Regions from separate parts of the Homo sapiens genome. Here region 2 is linked to region 1. The links come from fine-mapping of genetic effects on gene expression. A gene starts in region 1. The other region holds a variant in brackets. All regions are shown on one strand. Distances are from middle to middle.

What was found.
Region 2: its variant is fine-mapped to the expression of SLC25A4 in whole blood (TOPMed, PIP 0.97).

Annotation. Positions count from the first base shown.
Region 1 is chr4:185,138,851-185,147,187 of GRCh38, reverse strand. SLC25A4 (solute carrier family 25 member 4) reads right to left here and starts at 3,922. Exons shown (of 4, transcript NM_001151.4): 1 at 3,705-3,922; 2 at 1,938-2,424; 3 at 1,289-1,429; 4 at 1-374. The coding sequence starts at 3,815. The coding sequence ends at 217. RefSeq lists a silencer at 3,851-4,150.
Region 2 is chr4:185,461,400-185,469,736 of GRCh38, reverse strand. It overlaps CCDC110 (coiled-coil domain containing 110), which reads left to right. Exons shown (of 7, transcript NM_152775.4): 3 at 6,688-6,743; 4 at 7,029-7,094. Among named protein-coding and RNA genes, the nearest start is that of CCDC110, 6.2 kb to the left of the region's middle. The variant G/A (reference allele first, on the strand shown) is at 4,713.

The DNA of each region.
Region 1 (8,337 bases):
TATTTGCTGTGGGAATTTAAATGTAAAATAAATACAAAATACATGTGTGGTTTAATGAACACTCAATGAAGCATCTCTTCTGAGGTATTCCTTTCAGTCTGGTTTTATCCCAGATCTTTTTACTTCCCCTAGGAATAGTCTATTAAACCACACAATGGATCTGTGAACTTGTAGATCAAGTTCACTGTAAATCTGTGAACTTGTGTTTTAATTACATTAGACATATTTTTTGATCTCATCATACAACACCAATACAAAAGCACCGCCCATGCCTCTCAGCACATTGGACCAGGCACCTTTGAAGAAGGCCTTGGCTCCTTCGTCTTTTGCAATCTTCCTCCAGCAGTCAACTGTCCCCGTGTACATAATATCGGCTGTGGAAACAAATGCTGGTGAGGGCTCCGTAACGCTGGAGGAAAGAGACTTTTCCCCTGAAACATATCTGTACACACTGTTACCAGTTTTATAAAATCAGGGTCATCTGGGCATGGAGTCCCAGCTCCATGCAACATCCCACTGGACATCTCCTTCCTTGCTTCACTGGCAGGCTGGGTCTCCTGTCATTCCTACTCCATTAGTTCAAGGTCAGTGAAGAACTGGGGCAATTAACCAAGTAATTCATGGACTGCCCAACTGCGAAACAAGAAGGGCGCAGTGGAGCAGGAGTATTATGCTACGCGGTTACCTTTTTTTATGGAGGACCGAACTGAGGCCGAGCCTCAGATGATCCTGCACGAGGTTATGCAGTCTAAATAAAAGGCTGTAACTATTCGTTGAAACATACGAAACTGCTAACATTGGACTGTTTTTGACTTTTAAAGTGGCAATTTCGTATGGTTCAACCTATAGAAGCCAAAACTTTCTCTGGCACAACAGATTGCTTCAGGCCATCTCTACCCAGCTAAACACCCCATCCCACTAACACCTGTAACTAGGAGGGAAGCAAGAGTTCTTTGTAAGAAGTAGCTAACTACTTCTTTTCCCTAGCTTTTGCACCCAGGCTCTAAGGGAAGAGGGCCTAGGGTCTCTATAATGCTGGATACCTAGTTAAATTCACATCTAAATGTCTTACTATTCATGTTCTTATCATCTCTAATAAAATGGAAAATACTTTTCCCTAATAGGATAGTTGAGAACGTTAGGGGGAATTAATACCATCTTTCTTCCCTAAGTCCTTATCAAATAATTTTGAAAATTAATTTCCAGTAAGGAAGACTGAAAGGAGCCCTGTAAAATGTTCTCCTCGGGCAAAACCAAACAAGTTTAGATGAGTAGAGCACAAGCTTACCCCCTTTCCGGCCGGACTGCATCATCATTCTACGACGAACAGTGTCAAAGGGGTAGGACACCAGCCCTGCGACTGCCGTCACACTCTGGGCAATCATCCAGCTCACAAAAATGTGCACGTTCTTGGGGTCAGGCAGCATCCCTGTGGACAGAGCCCAGAAGCCGAACGGCTATGAAGTGCCTGTTCTCAGCAGAAAGCAGGTGGAGGGAGAGAGGCCACTGCACCTCCAGCTCCATGCTCTGACCTTGCGGGGAACCTGCCCCTGTGCAGGTGCTTCACATATGACCAGGCAGACAGCAAAGGTGGCTGCTGCCCTCTCCGGACCCCGGAGGGGCAGTGCTCAGCTTGTATACAGGGCATTGGAAGTGGCTTCAAGTTAAACTCAGTAACTGCTATGGCTGTGTCTAGAGGGAGACAGGCTCCCCCCTCCTCCTCTCTGAATAACTAAAGGCCAGAGTTTATTTCAGTAGAGGACACAAGGAACGCTTCAGCTATTAACTTATGCACATCACCTCCTCATTCAGAAGCCTCAATTATCCCAGAGACTAGAAAAAACAAGATCAATATATATCAGGTCCTTTGTGAGTTATAGATCCCATAGGATCCTCTTTCCACACCACCCTCCTTCTCCCCGATGCCCCTCTCTCACCCTTGGCAGTATCATAGACTCCGAAGTAGGCAGCTCTATAGATAATGATGCCTTGGACAGAGACGTTGAAACCCTGGTAGAGCCCCCTCAGGCCATCAGACTTGAAGATCTTGATGATACAGTCGCCCAGACCATGGAACTCACGCTGGGCGGCGCCCTTGCCCACATCAGCAGCCAACCTGGTCCTAGCAAAGTCCAGCGGGTAGACAAAGCAAAGGGAGGTGGCCCCAGCGGCCCCACCGGACGCCAGGTTACCAGCAAAGTAGCGCCAGAACTGCTTATGCCGATCCACACCCCCTAAGAAGAGCTGCTTGTACTTGTCCTTGAAGGCGAAGTTGAGAGCTTGGGTGGGGAAGTAACGGATCACGTTGGCCAGGTTACCCCTCCAGAAGGAGAGGAAGCCCTGCTCCTTAGGGATTCTCACCACACAATCAATGATCCCTTTGTACTGCTTCTCAGCACTGATCTGTTTGCTGGCATGCTGGACCTGGTGGAGGGGAGGGTGGGTGACAGAGGACAGGCAGGGTAGAGAGAAGGGAAGAGGACAGGAGAAAAAAAAAGGTTTGCACTTCCTAGATTTTTTTTTTGAAGAAAAAAAGGATGAGGAAATCAAATGGATACTGAGGACGTGTAAATGGATACTGTTATCCATGTTAGTTACTGGATAACAAGCCAAAATAATCCAATGTTGCTTCAATTATTAGGGTATTTGAGGGAAAAGGTATTGCCCCAAATAAACTGAAAAGGTGATTGAATTATATAAAGCTATAGCCATTTATTTATTTCACTTTCCCTAGGTTTGAGAACTGTATGAGGGGCTTACTGGGGGACAGAAATGAGTAACACTCCCTGCTTCAAAGGGCTTTGGATTTAATAGACATGATGGCCAAAAAATGACAATTTCTCAGTGTCACTCTGATCACCCTGGAGATGAGGATCTCTACTAGATGCTCTAATAGAGGAAGGAGAATAAATCCACTAAACATTAGGCCTCCAAAGTTTTCAAGCAGATAATCCAAGTAATCAATTATTAAGGGTTTGCTGCCGTTGTGAGCAATTTGTGGGGGTTTTGTTGTTAGTAATTCTGACTCCCAAATTGGGCTCTTCCTCATTGAGGGGCCCTGACCTTTTGGGCAGGTGGAGGAAAACACGAGAGGATGATAAACCATTCAGCGACCAGGTAGGGGAGGAAAAGATTTGGAGACAGGATGATCTGAGTTTATTCCGAAAATTGTTTCTTAATATTTCAAAACCTCAGCTTCATCTGTAAAATGGAGAAGAATAACTCTCTCACAGAGGTTACATAAAGATGAAGGCGTCAGCCTACATACAGCATTGTGCATGAGATACGATAAGGGAATTCTTGGGTGATGATTATTTTGATGTTTTTATTGTAAAGGTGCGTGCGCATAAGACGGTGCCAAAAATACTGGCAATCACTAGGTGCCTCCGGGCCTGAGTGCACGCCCGTGCTGTCACGGGCGCAGGATCTGGCACACGTAAACCGGCTCCGGGTGGGTTTCCATATATAGACACCCGAACGCCGGGCGCCACCCGACACCAGGAATCTGCGACTGACGCTGGACCTGTCTCTACGCAGAGGGCACCTTCTTCCCCCGCGGGCGGGCGGGCGGGCGGGCGGGCGCCCGGGCCTGTGGCCTGGCGCAGATTTTCCGCGGCGCCCCGCGCCCTGCAGCTCGCGCCGCATCGCGCGCCCCGCCCGGCCCGCCGCGCCCGCGCCCGCCTCTTGCACCGCGCGGTCCTCACCTGCAGCAGCAGTTTGACCCTCTCGATGGGGGCGACCGCGGTCTTGGAGACGGCAGCGGCGACGCCCCCGGCCAGGAAGTCCTTTAGGAAGCTCCAAGCGTGATCACCCATGGTGACAGCTCGACGCTCTCAGCCCGCAGGCAGCCCGTTCGTGCTCTCGCCCACGCCCGGCCTGGCACCGCCGCGCAGTCCCCGACCCTGCGCGACGCTAGGGGGCCGCCGCCTGGCCCGCAGCTCCCCCTTATATCCCCGCCGGGCTCTCGCGAGAGGAGGCGGGTCGCGGCCGGCGCTCGCGCCGCGCATTGGCTGGGCAGGTGCGGGGCGCCCCCTCCTCCCAGCTGCAGAGGGCATCGGGGGCGAAGGCGCTTCCGGGAGCGAGGCTGGGCCGGGGGCTGTCCCTGCAACTTGGGACGTTTAAAGGGCACATTCATGTTATCTGTCCCGCCGAGCCCAGGGAACACCGTGTCACCGCGGCATGTGGGCCGCGTATTTATAGCACAGGCAGCCTTAGGCCGGGGCGAAGCCGGGGCAGACACCGGGCCGCTGCCGCCGGTGGAGAGTTCTTGACCCTCCGGCCTGCACGGGCCGCGCTCAGGCCCAGGGATTTCGAGCTGTTTCCTCCTTCTTGCATCTAAAGGCGCCCCCCACCAGAGCTCACTGCCTGGATATGGGCCTCTTTAGAGCCGTGCGCTCCCGAGAATAAATGGCAGTCCTCTCAAATAGATACTAAGGTCACCTGATGCTGTGATTGCCTCATAGAATCTGACAACCTGCTGCCTCTCATTTCTTTTCATTCAATCGTTCGTTCAGTCATTCATTCTGCTATTACATATTGATGTGTCTGGCACTCAGTGCCCACAGGAAAGACCTGGTGCAGGGGGCCACTAGGTGAATTCATACTTGTTTCTGCAAAACTCTGTGACTCTAAAACACAGGACACTTCTTTTGTAAGCCCCTAAAGGGTTCAATGTACCACTCTGCTCTCAGCGGAATTTCAGCACATATTAGGGCAGAATGTTCTGTCTGTCAGCCGGTGCCTTCTTGAGGGTCAGTGCTGTCAGCCTTCCGGAGATCCAGTCCTTGGCTGTATTTGCCTCTTTTTAATGACAGCTGGGGTTGAGGAAATGCTATTTAATCCCAGGAAATTAATTGCAATTAATTTCTTAAAATATATAAATCTGAGCTTTAATTTTCCTTAGCTTGTTTTTTAGGCAGTTCATGTAACCATACAGGTTTTCAAATACAACTGTTCCTTCCCCTAGAATGACTGCAATTCGTTTTTAACTTTAAACTCTTCACTCAATTATCTTCCCATGTTTGCTAATTTTCATTTGTACCTTTAACAAAGTTTATTCATTGTTTTATAAACTTTTTTTTTTTAATATTTGCTGACATCATGTTAGAGGTTTACGGAGCTGCAGCTGCGTGTCACCCTGGGCGTGGAGACTTTGGTATAGCAGAAGTCACTAAGGTTCCAGGGCCACAGAGGGCATGCGTTTATCTAAGAGTGGGGCAGGCTAGAGTTCCGAAATCCAGGTAAGCAGAATGAAAGCTAGAAACTAGTGGAAAGCTGCCAGAGGTCAGAGCAGACAGAAGTCAAGAACTCGGAAGAGACAAACAGATAAACCATGTATGTGTTCATTCAACAGACTCTTGCTGAGCATGTACTGTGTACCAAGAACTAGGTGTAGCCCTGTGGATTGAATATAAGTAGACGTGGCCCATCTCCAAAGACCTTACAGTTCAGTGTATTCGTCACTTGCTCCACTTTATCAAAACTTCACTTACTGATTTCCATGGATCAGCATAATCCACACAGTAAACCTTTTTAATTATAATAGTGTACTGTATCCCATCCTGTAATATAGAGCACTTGCTTTTATACCTCCATTTTCCTTTTAATTGTGCATTAGAATTGTGTCTTATTTTTATGATGAAAAATAGGCCGGGTGTGGTGGCTCATACCTTTGGGAGGCTGAGGCTGGCAGATTACCTAGGTCAGGAGTTCGAGACCAGCCTGGCCAACATGGCAAAACCCCATCTCTACTAAAAATACAAAAATTAGCCTGGCGTGATGGCTCATGCCTGGAATCCCAGCAGCTCAGGAGGCTCAGGCACGAGACCCCCGAGAGGCAGAGGTCATGGTGATCTGAGATCACTCCACTGCACTTCAGCCTGGGCAACAGAGAAAGACTCTGACTCAAAAAAAAAAAAAGAAAGAAAGAAAGAAAGAAAGGAAGGAAGGAAGGAAGGAAGGAAGGAAGGAAGGAAAACTAATACTGCTACATTGAAACTTACACAAACTTCATTTTCTCCTCTAAGTTTTTTCTTCTCATATATTTCCCAAATGGAATGGATAGATTTAAGATTTTTAAAGTTTTGTAGCTTTTGCTACATATTGACAAATTGCTCTTCAGAAATACCAACCCACCAGTTATATAGATGGGCTTTCTCTCACACTCTTCTCCAACACTGGCTTTAAAAAAATAGAGAGTTGGTTATTTGTGAGTTATTTATGAGTTTTAGTTTGTATTTACTTAATTACTATGAAGCTGTATATATTCCATATGATTCAATTTAATTTGACAGTTTGACAAGGTTTCCCTTTTGTATAAACTTTTAATCTTCCTTGACTACTGCTGGAGTGAAAGCAGAGTATTTATATTAACAACAATTCTTTATATATTTGGGACAATAAATATGTGTTGAATGTTTTTCATTTTGTTGTTTTCCTTTTGATATTTATTATATCATTCTATTAGTGTTATGAACAGATCTATGGTATGATGATGATCTATTTCATGTTCTGATGTAAATGTATCTCTTTTATAGATATAGCAGTCTATTTACTCTAGTACATATATCAGTTTTTTTCTTCTACTTTGAGTAGCTATTTTTAAAATGTCTAACACTACGTTTTATATTGTATGGAGGTATGGGTCTAATTTCACTTTTCTCCATATCATGCTTGGGTATCCCAATACTAATTCTTAAGTAGATATTTTCTTCTCTCCATTATTTGTCTTATATTACTAAGTCTAGTTTGTCATATATTAAGTTCTCATAATAGCTTTAATTTATGAAATATCCACACTATGACATATTTATTTGATCTTCATTTTTTAAAAATAGGCTGATATATGATTCTACAATCACTTAAAAAATAAAGTTTTATCTGCTTATGTGTCTGGATTTATTTTTACTATCAAGTTGTTCAATTGTTTAAACATCACCAGAAGATTTTAAATAGACATTTAAACTAAATTAAATATTAATTAATATATGAATTCAGGAAGTAGTATCATCTTTGTTACACTTAATTTTACCAATCAGAGTTTTGGATATTTTCTAAATGGGAGATATATTTCTCCTTGGCTACTCTCCAGTTATCCTGTTCTATAGAAGGAGTCATAGCTGGAATCCTTGACAAGAGGTTTTCCATGGAAACTCATACACTGTCCTCTGCTTCCACGGACTTTCTCAGAAAAGAGAGGCCTTACATGCCCTCGGGAGCATGAGCTGCCTGTGGTCACAAGATCCTGGTATCACTTACACAGGCAGGGGAGAGAATGGCGCTCGGCAGAACATGTGTCCACCCGCCCAACCCAGTACTTAGTGGCTTTCTTCCAGCAGGAGAATGGACAAGGCATCTAGGAGATGAGAAGAAACTCTACTTTCAATCGTGGATGGGATCTTAGATGCTGGTGGGAACAGGGCCATGTAGAAATGAGAGCAGGGTGGAAAGTTAGCCTTTTGGAATTTTAGTGGAAGCTCTTATAGACTTAGTCTCTTACCAAACTGGGAATAGAGAATGGAAGTTGCTAAAGAGTAAGAGTGACAAGGAATAAAGAAAAACAATAAAGGATGTGCTAATGGTGGTGATAACATAATGCCTGTGTGCAAGTGTACATTTAAAGTATTAGGAATTAGAACACACTACTAGTGTTTGTTCACATGGTAAGTTTCAGCATTAAGCGAAGAGGATCAAGATATTTATATGTGCATTTATTTATTTATTTATTTTAGAGACAGCATCTTGCTTTGTCACCCTGGCTGGAGCACGGTGGCACAATCACAGATCACTGAAACCATGCACTCCTAGGCACAAGGGATCCTCCTGCTTCAGCCTCCTGAGTAGCTGAGGCTACAGGCACATACCATCATGCCCGGATATATATATTTTTTAATTTGCAGGTTTTGCTGTGGTCTCCTGGTTTTGCTATGTTGCCCAGGCTATGTGGAGAAGCTTACATGCCAGGAACAGACATAGCTGTGGTGCCTACAGGCAATTCCAACGCAGCCTGGCAAGGACAAGGACCCAAGAGGGGGTTCTGGTTGTACTTCCAGCAGAGTGACTTTCAGTGTGTTGCCTCCACCGGAACTTGTACTTTTTACGTTTTATGAATGTTCGTGAAACAAAAAGTTTTGTTAGAAGGATTTGGCGCCTTATTATTTAAAGGAGGTGATTTGAGGGGGCAGAGGAGCCCTTGAATCATAGAAAAGACAGAGGGACTTCTCCTAGAAGGCACTCTGCTTCCGGGGGAAACTGATTCAGGTTGGCCTCTTGGTTGCTGGAGGCAGGGAGGCCTGGGGGACCCCCGTAGCACACCCCTGATAGACACAGGCGGACCCC
Region 2 (8,337 bases), 320 kb before region 1:
CACTACCAGGATGAGCAACACCCCAGTGGAGGCCAGCAGGACAGGCACTGGCCAGTCCCCTCTCCGCCCTCCTGCCTCCACCCTTGAGATATGCAGGTTTCCCTGGGCAACCAGGAGGGGCAAAGGGGCCCCCTGAACGAAGGAGAAAGAGTCCTCACAGAGAGTTGAGACATTGAGGTAGCTCCGTATTTACCTCAAAGAGAGCATGTAAGGTCAGAAGAAATAGAAGTACCTTAATTTGGCAAGATCACATGTTTTTTGACATGAATGAGGCTTAGGGTTCTGGAGAAAGATGCCAACATTTATAGAAAATAGTTACATGCAAAATAGCACATGTACATGTTTAAGAGTTACAGTCTTTCTTGCCAGAACACAGTGTTTACAGGTCTGGGGTTGACACAGGACAGGTTCTTAATAAACACCAGTTATCTTGAGTCAGGGGCCACCCAGGAATTTCCTGCCTGCAACTATAGGCAAAACTAGGAGGTATGGCTGGCGCCCTTCTCTCTACTCTCCTACTGATGCTTTCATTGTCACCAAGTGATCCATTCCCCGTGTACTGAGAAAATAATGACCTGATTTGCATAACTACTGCCAGGTTACAAAGAGTTATAGAATGTTCCCAAGGTGTCTCTGATTTCAGAACTAGTGGTTAACCTAATTAACCCTTATTGGAATGGGTTTGTGAGAGACTTTTGAATTTGAGGGTGTCCAGGGTGTTGTTCCCAGCACCCTGTTGTACCCGAGCTTTCATTCATTCATTCGTTTGTGGAGCATATTCTTTTGAGCACCTGCTAAGTTTCAAGTGCTGTTCTAGGTGCTGGGGATCCAACAGTGAACAAGACTTGCAAGATTCCCTGCCCACATGGAGCTTACCTTCTAGTGAGGGAACAGACAGACAAAGGCTATTGTGTGTAAGCGGGGAATAAATTCTATGGAGAACATAAGGCTGAGAAGGGGGGGAGGAATATTTGGAGTGGCAGAGGTGGGTGGGAAGTGTGTCATTTTAAACAGGGTGGTAGGAGAAGGGCTCACTCAGCAGGTCACGTCTGAGCCAAGACCAGAAGGAAGTAAAGAAGCAATCTGTGCAGATTTCTAGGGAAAGAGCACCGCAGGCAGAGAGAATGGCAACTGCAAAGACCCTGTGGTGGGAGCGTGGCTGGTGTGATTGAGGAACGGTTGCTCTTGTAAATGGAGCAGAACAAGTAGGGAAGGGTAGGCGGGAGGAACCAGGACAGGGCTTTGTAGTTCCATGGATGAATTTGGGATTTATTCTGAGAAAATTGAGAAGCACTGGAGAATTTTGAGAAGGCTTCTCTCCCCTCCGTCTTGACTAGAAATTTTGAATTTACCAAATTATCATCATATTGCCTCTGCAGTAATGAGTTAGTGTCTCTTGAGCATTCACTATGTGCCGTACACCTCGTACACCTCAGTAAGGGCTTTATCTACAAACTGGACACTCGCCTAGAGTTATCCCCTCACTGCGAGTGTGTGGCAAAGCTAGAATTCAAATCTGGGCGGCAGGCAACCTGTTGCATAGCTCCTTGCATAATGACTGTGACAAAGCCTCATGCAGAGGGTGCCACACCTCACAAAGCTTTGTAAGACAGGGACATCTAGGAATGAACTTGAATTGTCACAGCAGAACTCAGTATTAGAACCTGCGGCCAGGCATGGTGGCTCACGCCTGTAATCCCAGCATTTTGGGAGACCGAGGCAGGAGGATCACCTGAGGTCAGGAGTTTGAGACCAGCCTGGCCAACATGGTGAAACCCCGTCTCTACTAAAAATACAAAAATTAGCCGGGTGTGCTGGCACATGCCTGTAGTCCCAGCTACTCAGGAAGCTGAGGCAGGAGAATCACTTGAACCCGGGAGGCAGAGGTTGCAATGAGAAGAAACTAAGAATTACAAAGCTTGCAGAGAGCCTGACATCTTATATAGAATCGTTACCCTGTTGCATTTTCAGAATGTATTGGTTCCTCTTGGTCTGTTTGCTACAGGTATGCAGTTGGTACTTTTTGTATACATTGAATACAATATTTTTTGCAGGCTCAGAATAAAAATTACCTCAAAAGTCATCCCATTGATAACTACCTTGTTTTTCACTTTTGACAGAAATATGAAGCAGCTGGAAAATTTAAGTTGAATATGAGATGAGTAATATTCTTACATTCCCAATAAACTCTCATCTTGGTGGGTGGGACCATGCCTTCCGCTTTGTTTATGTGCCTCCCGATATTGTATGTTTAGCAGGGACTTGGTAAATGGTGAAGTGTGATTGTGTTTTATCTCCTGGGTTCTTTGATAATTTCCCTTCCAATTCTAGAATCACGTAATTCTGTGTGACTAAGTATTGCCTAGTTTTTAAATTACCTTTCCTTTGGGAATAAGTAGCAGCCGATGTCTCTGAAACTCATAAGAAAAACAGAAAGTTATGTTAATAGCTTTTAAAAATAGATGAATCCGACTCCCTGCCTACTCTCTGCCTGTGCAGAATCATCTGAACTTTGCTGGAGAAAAACACTCACTTTTGAGTCATACCATGAATCTAAAATGCACTCTCAATGCTATTGGGAAAACTTACTTTATTTCCACAGAAAATTCTTCTTCAAATCCTCTGCAAAAAAGCTATTTCACTCCTCCTGTTCTCAAATCTTGAACACGTTTCTCCCTGGCCGCTCCACTCATAACATGGTCCCACTCTATATGAAAAAAGTAGAAGCACTCAGACCCAAACTCCTTCATTCTCACCCTTCACATTTGTGAAACCCATATTCTAGGTCTTCTCCCATTTCAACGGAAGAATTGTCCTTGATCAATCAAAAGTGATTTCCTCTGGATCTCATCTCTTGTGGAATTCTCAAGTCCCAGCTTCTGCAATTAGCCTCCCTCATTGTCCGGAATTATTGCTTTTCTCCCTTTCTACTATGTGATTCCAGCAGCAAACAAGCATGTTAGAATGTCCTGTGGTTTAAAAAAAAAAAAATTCCTTCTCTTAGCCAGATGTGGTGGCACACACCTGTGGTCCCAGCTACTCCGGAGGCTGACATGGGAGGATCGCTTGAGCCTTGGAGGTGGAGGCTGCAGTGAGCCAAGATCATGCCACTGCACTCCAGCCTGGGCAACAGAGTGAGACTCCATCTCAAAAAAAGAAAAAAAATCCCTCTTGACTTTCACATCTCTTCCAGGATGCACTGTCTTCCCTTCCACAGTGAAACTAGAAACAGTGACCTATCCTCCATGCCCACCAATCTCCACATTCCATTCTCTCCTCAAGCACTTCGTTCGGGCTTCTATGCATGTCCTTCTGCATGGCCAGCAGTGACATCTATGTTTGTTTGTTTATTTATTTATTTTAGATGGAGTTTCGCTCTTGTCTCCCAGGCTGGAGTGCAGTGGCACAATCTCGGCTCACTGCAACCTCCACCTCCCACGTTCAAACGATTCTCCTGCCTCAGCCTCCCGAGTAGCTGGGATTACAGGCACATGCCACCACACCCAGCAAATTTTTTGTATTTTTAGTAGAGACAGGGTTTCACCATGTTAGCCAGGATGGTCTCGATCTCCTGACCTCGTGATCTGCCCGCCTAGGCCTCCCAAAGTGCTGGGATTACAGGTGCGAGCCACTGCACCCGGCCCATCCATGTTGAATGATGTGTTCATTGCTGCTCCCATGAATCATACACTGGTAGACCCACCTGACTATTGGATATCTCTTCTTTGATGTTTAACAGACAACCTAGCCTTAACATATCTAAAAATGTTTTTCTCCTAAAGTATGTTCCTACTCTACTGTTTTCCCCCAGTAAATGACATCATCCCTCATCCATCTGCTCTCACCAAAAAACAAGGAGCCATCATTCATTCATCTCTCCTGGCCCCAACGAATCCTCCAGCAATGCTGCTGGCTTCATCTCCAAAGTATATTCTGAATCTACCTGCTTTCCCCACCTCCCCCACCACCATTCTAGTCCAAGATATCTTCATCTCCACTTAGATTATTGCGGTAGCCCTGCAATTGCCTTCTCACCCCACCCCATACTCTATTATCATGTAGCAGAGTGACCTGTAAACTTTTCAGTCAGATCAAATCATTCTCATGATGGAAACCTTCCAAAGTTCCCCGTTTCACTTGAAGGAAAAGCCAACCCGCTCAGCTTGGCCTGGAGGCTCTGCATAACCTAGCCCCTGTCTCCTGCTCCGACGTGTCCTCATCTTGTGCTCCCATGGGTCCACTAAGCTGCTTAGTAACAGTGCAATCACGGTGAGGCCAAAAAAGGAAGAAGAGATGGAAGATGGAAAATATATGTAGACAACATGTATAAATCCCATTGCTTTCTTTGAAATCTTTGATTTACTGTATCCCTTTATTAAGTCTGTACATTTCTTTTGGTCTCATATTTCTTATTTGGTTTTAGCTAAAGGAATCTTATATTTAGCTTTGAACTTGCAAATCCTCCTAATGAAAGGAAATCTGTACAGAAAAAGGAAGCTATTCCTGTAGGTATGGGAAGGAGATAGAATTTTGAACAGTTACATCACTCAGAATAGAGTTGAAGGCTGAATACATTTATGAGAATGATATCCTATCTTCGTGTTTAAATAAAGAGCTGTGTGGAAATTACAGTTACAGAACAGAATGTAAACATAAACCTTCACAGTGTATAAATCACATAACTAGCAAATACCATGAAAAGAGGGAAGTAG[G/A]CATGGAAGGAAATAGAATGCTAATTTTCTCATCTCTCTTGGCAGGGAGTAAGTCAACAATGAATACAATAGAACTGTATGTTATTGAAACAATAAAGGTTTCAATCTTTAATTCTTTTCATGTTAATTTTCATTAGTTTACAGGGATCTCTTAGGAAATAATATCTCTCATGTAGTAAAAAAAAATCCAAATACTAGAAATAATTTCCACTACTTGCAGTTTTAAAAATTCTCTTAAATTCAAGTAAATATAGGCAATATTTATGTAAAATACCATTTATGTATAAAATGATTCCACTTCATCCACTTATGTGCATAGAGAGCTGACCGAAAGATGGCACCTAAAATTAACAACAGTTCGTTGTGGGTGGCAGGATTCTAGGTGGTATATTCTTCCCGATTTGCACTTTGGTCTAGTTAAGTTCATTAGAAGAGGTTACTTTAGAGTCTGAAAAACGTTGTGTTTCCTTCCTATGCTGGTCTGGGCCTTCCTTCAGTTCCTTATTTTTTAGATGAACAGTTCAGGATACCAGGAGTTTAGCTGCCATTTTATTCCCAAGAAGAGGCAAAGCTAAGCAAGATCCAGACAGCAAGATCCGCCCTCTGACTGAAGGTGGAGGCAAAGCTAAGCAAGATCCAGACAGACTCGCTCTCCCTCCCCACCCTCTGACTGAAGGTGGGATTCTTCAATAGCCAGGCAGCTCCAGGCTCCAAACCAGCGTTGCCCCTTTGGTGGTGAGGGTCAGAGAGCAGAAGGGGTGCCTGTACTTTGCAAGCGGCTTCTCTAACATCTGACAGCCTGCCAATCCAAAGGAGATTCGCTGACCTCTTTTAAAACTTAGGGCAGAAATTATCAGCCTAGGGGAACGTTCCATCATAGCTCTCATTTTACTTAGGACACTGAAAGCTTTTATGAATACACTCTTTAATAAAAAGTTTACAAAGCAAGCAGCCTAACATGCAGACAAAGAGGGATATAAGGGCATTTGCAAACATGATAGAGTCTCCCCCTGTTGCAGATCTATAATCTATCCAGGACGGTATCAAGCAAGTGACATTCTGCCTATTATCAAAAGAAGCTGGAGTACTTCTGTCTACTGTATCTTAGTATCGGAGTCGCCAAGCAAAACACAACAGTCAAGCACCGGATGCAACAACCCTTTACTCACAGAATGAAGAGACGGAGCAAGATCAGCCTCAGTAGTGGGTGTTGGTTCCCCATGGCCAGAGGGCCCCTTCTGGCCCATCTATAATCTAGCAGGGGACAGAGTAGCAGGGTTGGCCAGGTATCATATGACACACACACTTAAGCAGAACAAAGGAGTACACACTGAGTCTGAAGCGGGGAGTGCTATCCCCACACATGGTAGCAAGTCCAGCACAGGCTGTGAACGAGGACTTTAAAAAGAGTCCCCTTGGTAAAGAAGTGTTCCAGGCCCAGGCCCATTCATACATGGCCAAGAGGGGATCTAAAGACTGTGAATGTGAAACTGCCCTTCCCAAGGGAAGCCACAAGTGCGTACTGTGCTTAAGCCAGGACAAAAATTATGCTGTTGATCCAACTTGGTTTCCATAAGGGGAAAAATGTCACATGGAAATTTCACAGAAATTGAGGCCTGTATACTACTTTGCCAAGGGTCTCCCATAATATGAGCATTATTAGGTTTTTTTTGAATGCAGTTTATATCCCAGAAACAAAGATATTTGATATTTGAGTTTTTGAGAGTTCTAAGTGTGGTGTTGCAAATTAACGGTGTACTCTAAAAGTGAAGACACTATTACAACCTCAAGTGGATATATTAAGTCAAGCGAGAATTATCACTTAAGCTTATGTGACTAGCATAGTGTGAATATCAGAAGTTCTCATTATCTCTGCCTCACTATCCAAGCAAGTTAGGAGACTGCTTTCTATTACAGGTTTTAAAAAATAAAATTTAAGAATTAAGTCACATGGTTTTTCAATTTTGCTTCTTAGAATATGGCTGCATAGCAGAATCAGAAAATCAAATCCAACCACAATCAGCATTGAAAGTGAGTCTATATTCCATTTTATCATCTCCAAAATTCTGGGTAAAGGCTGATCTTTTTCAGAATAAATACTCCCTAAATGCAAACGGGTTCTCTCACTTTATCCTCACAAGGATCTCCATGAAAGCACATTGGGGAGTTAGCAAAATGCCTAAGAATGTGAACCACCTGACCCTCACGGGATCTTTTCAAGTAATAGGCAACTTTGGGAGACATAAAATCATAACAATTCAAGAATACGTTTACCTACCTAAAAATACTCAATTTCATACTTTACTTTTGTCATAGGTCCTTCAGCAGCAGTTGGAATCATTTCAGGCTTTGCGAATGCAGACTTTGCAGAATGTCAGCATGGTATGTTTCTTTTGATCTATATATGAAATATCTCACCTTGAAGTATCATCCCATCTTCTAAGCTGATGGTCACTAGCCAATGGATTAGCTGACACAGAATTTAATATAATAGAGGCCACAGCATATTCTAGGCTCAAAATTTATTTTAAAGAAACTACATTCTTCTCTCTGTTATACTTGTATTTGGAAACAAGCCCAAAGAGATAGCACTCGCTGATTTTTTCAATACACGTTTAAAGTCTATATATAGACTACAAATAGGGACCCTCATTATAGGTGACATGAAGTCTAATTCAAACTGGCTTAGGGAAAAAATACACTTTAATAGCTCAAGTAAATGAAAGTCCTGGAGAGAGCTCACTTCAGGATGGCTGAGTCCACATGATCAGGTCTTGTGTCGTCAAAATAGGTCTCACTCTGTATCCTGATTCTGCTTTCCACAGTAGGGGATTCTCAGACTCCCTGTGGTGGCAGAAGATCTGCTAGAAGGTCCAGTTCTTTCTCCTTCCAAATTCAAGTCAGAGAAGAGAGTACACTTTGCTTTGAGAAGGAGTTTCATTTTTGTCACCCAGGCTGGAGTGTGGTGGCATGATCTTGGCTCCCTGCGACTTCTGCCTCCTGGGTTCAAGCAATTCTCCTGCCTCAGCCTCCTGAGTAGCTGGGATTACAGGTGCCCACCACCATGCCTGGTTAATTTTTGTATTTTTAGTAGAGACCAGGTTTCGCCACATTAGCCAGGCTGGTCTTAAACTCCCGACCTTAGGTGATCTGCCCACCTCAGTCTCCCAAAATGCTGGGATTACAGGCGTGAGCCACCGCACCCGGCTACACTTTGCTCACAATAGTTTAGACTGAGGCTCTTGGCCTGATTCAGATGGATCCCGACTGGGTCACATGCAATGCTTGAACCAATCACTGTCAGGTGGCCGCTGTTCCCTGACTAGTTAGCACTCAGTCAGGTGCCCCTGGGAGTTAGAGGCAGAATCAATACTACCATAACCACGCTTCATCCAGAAGAAATAAGGAGAAGTATAAACAGAAGTCTAGAGTATAGATATTGGGGGTATGTAACACACACATATTCACTAAAGACCCAGTGTAAACTTCATCCCAATATTCTTATACTAAAAGCACCTGCAGGGAAATAGGAAGGGAAGATAACTCCTCCTAAGGGGGACAGAATAGATTCCAAAGGTCTCTTATTCAACAATGTAAAAATCAGACACCTAAAATCATTTGAATA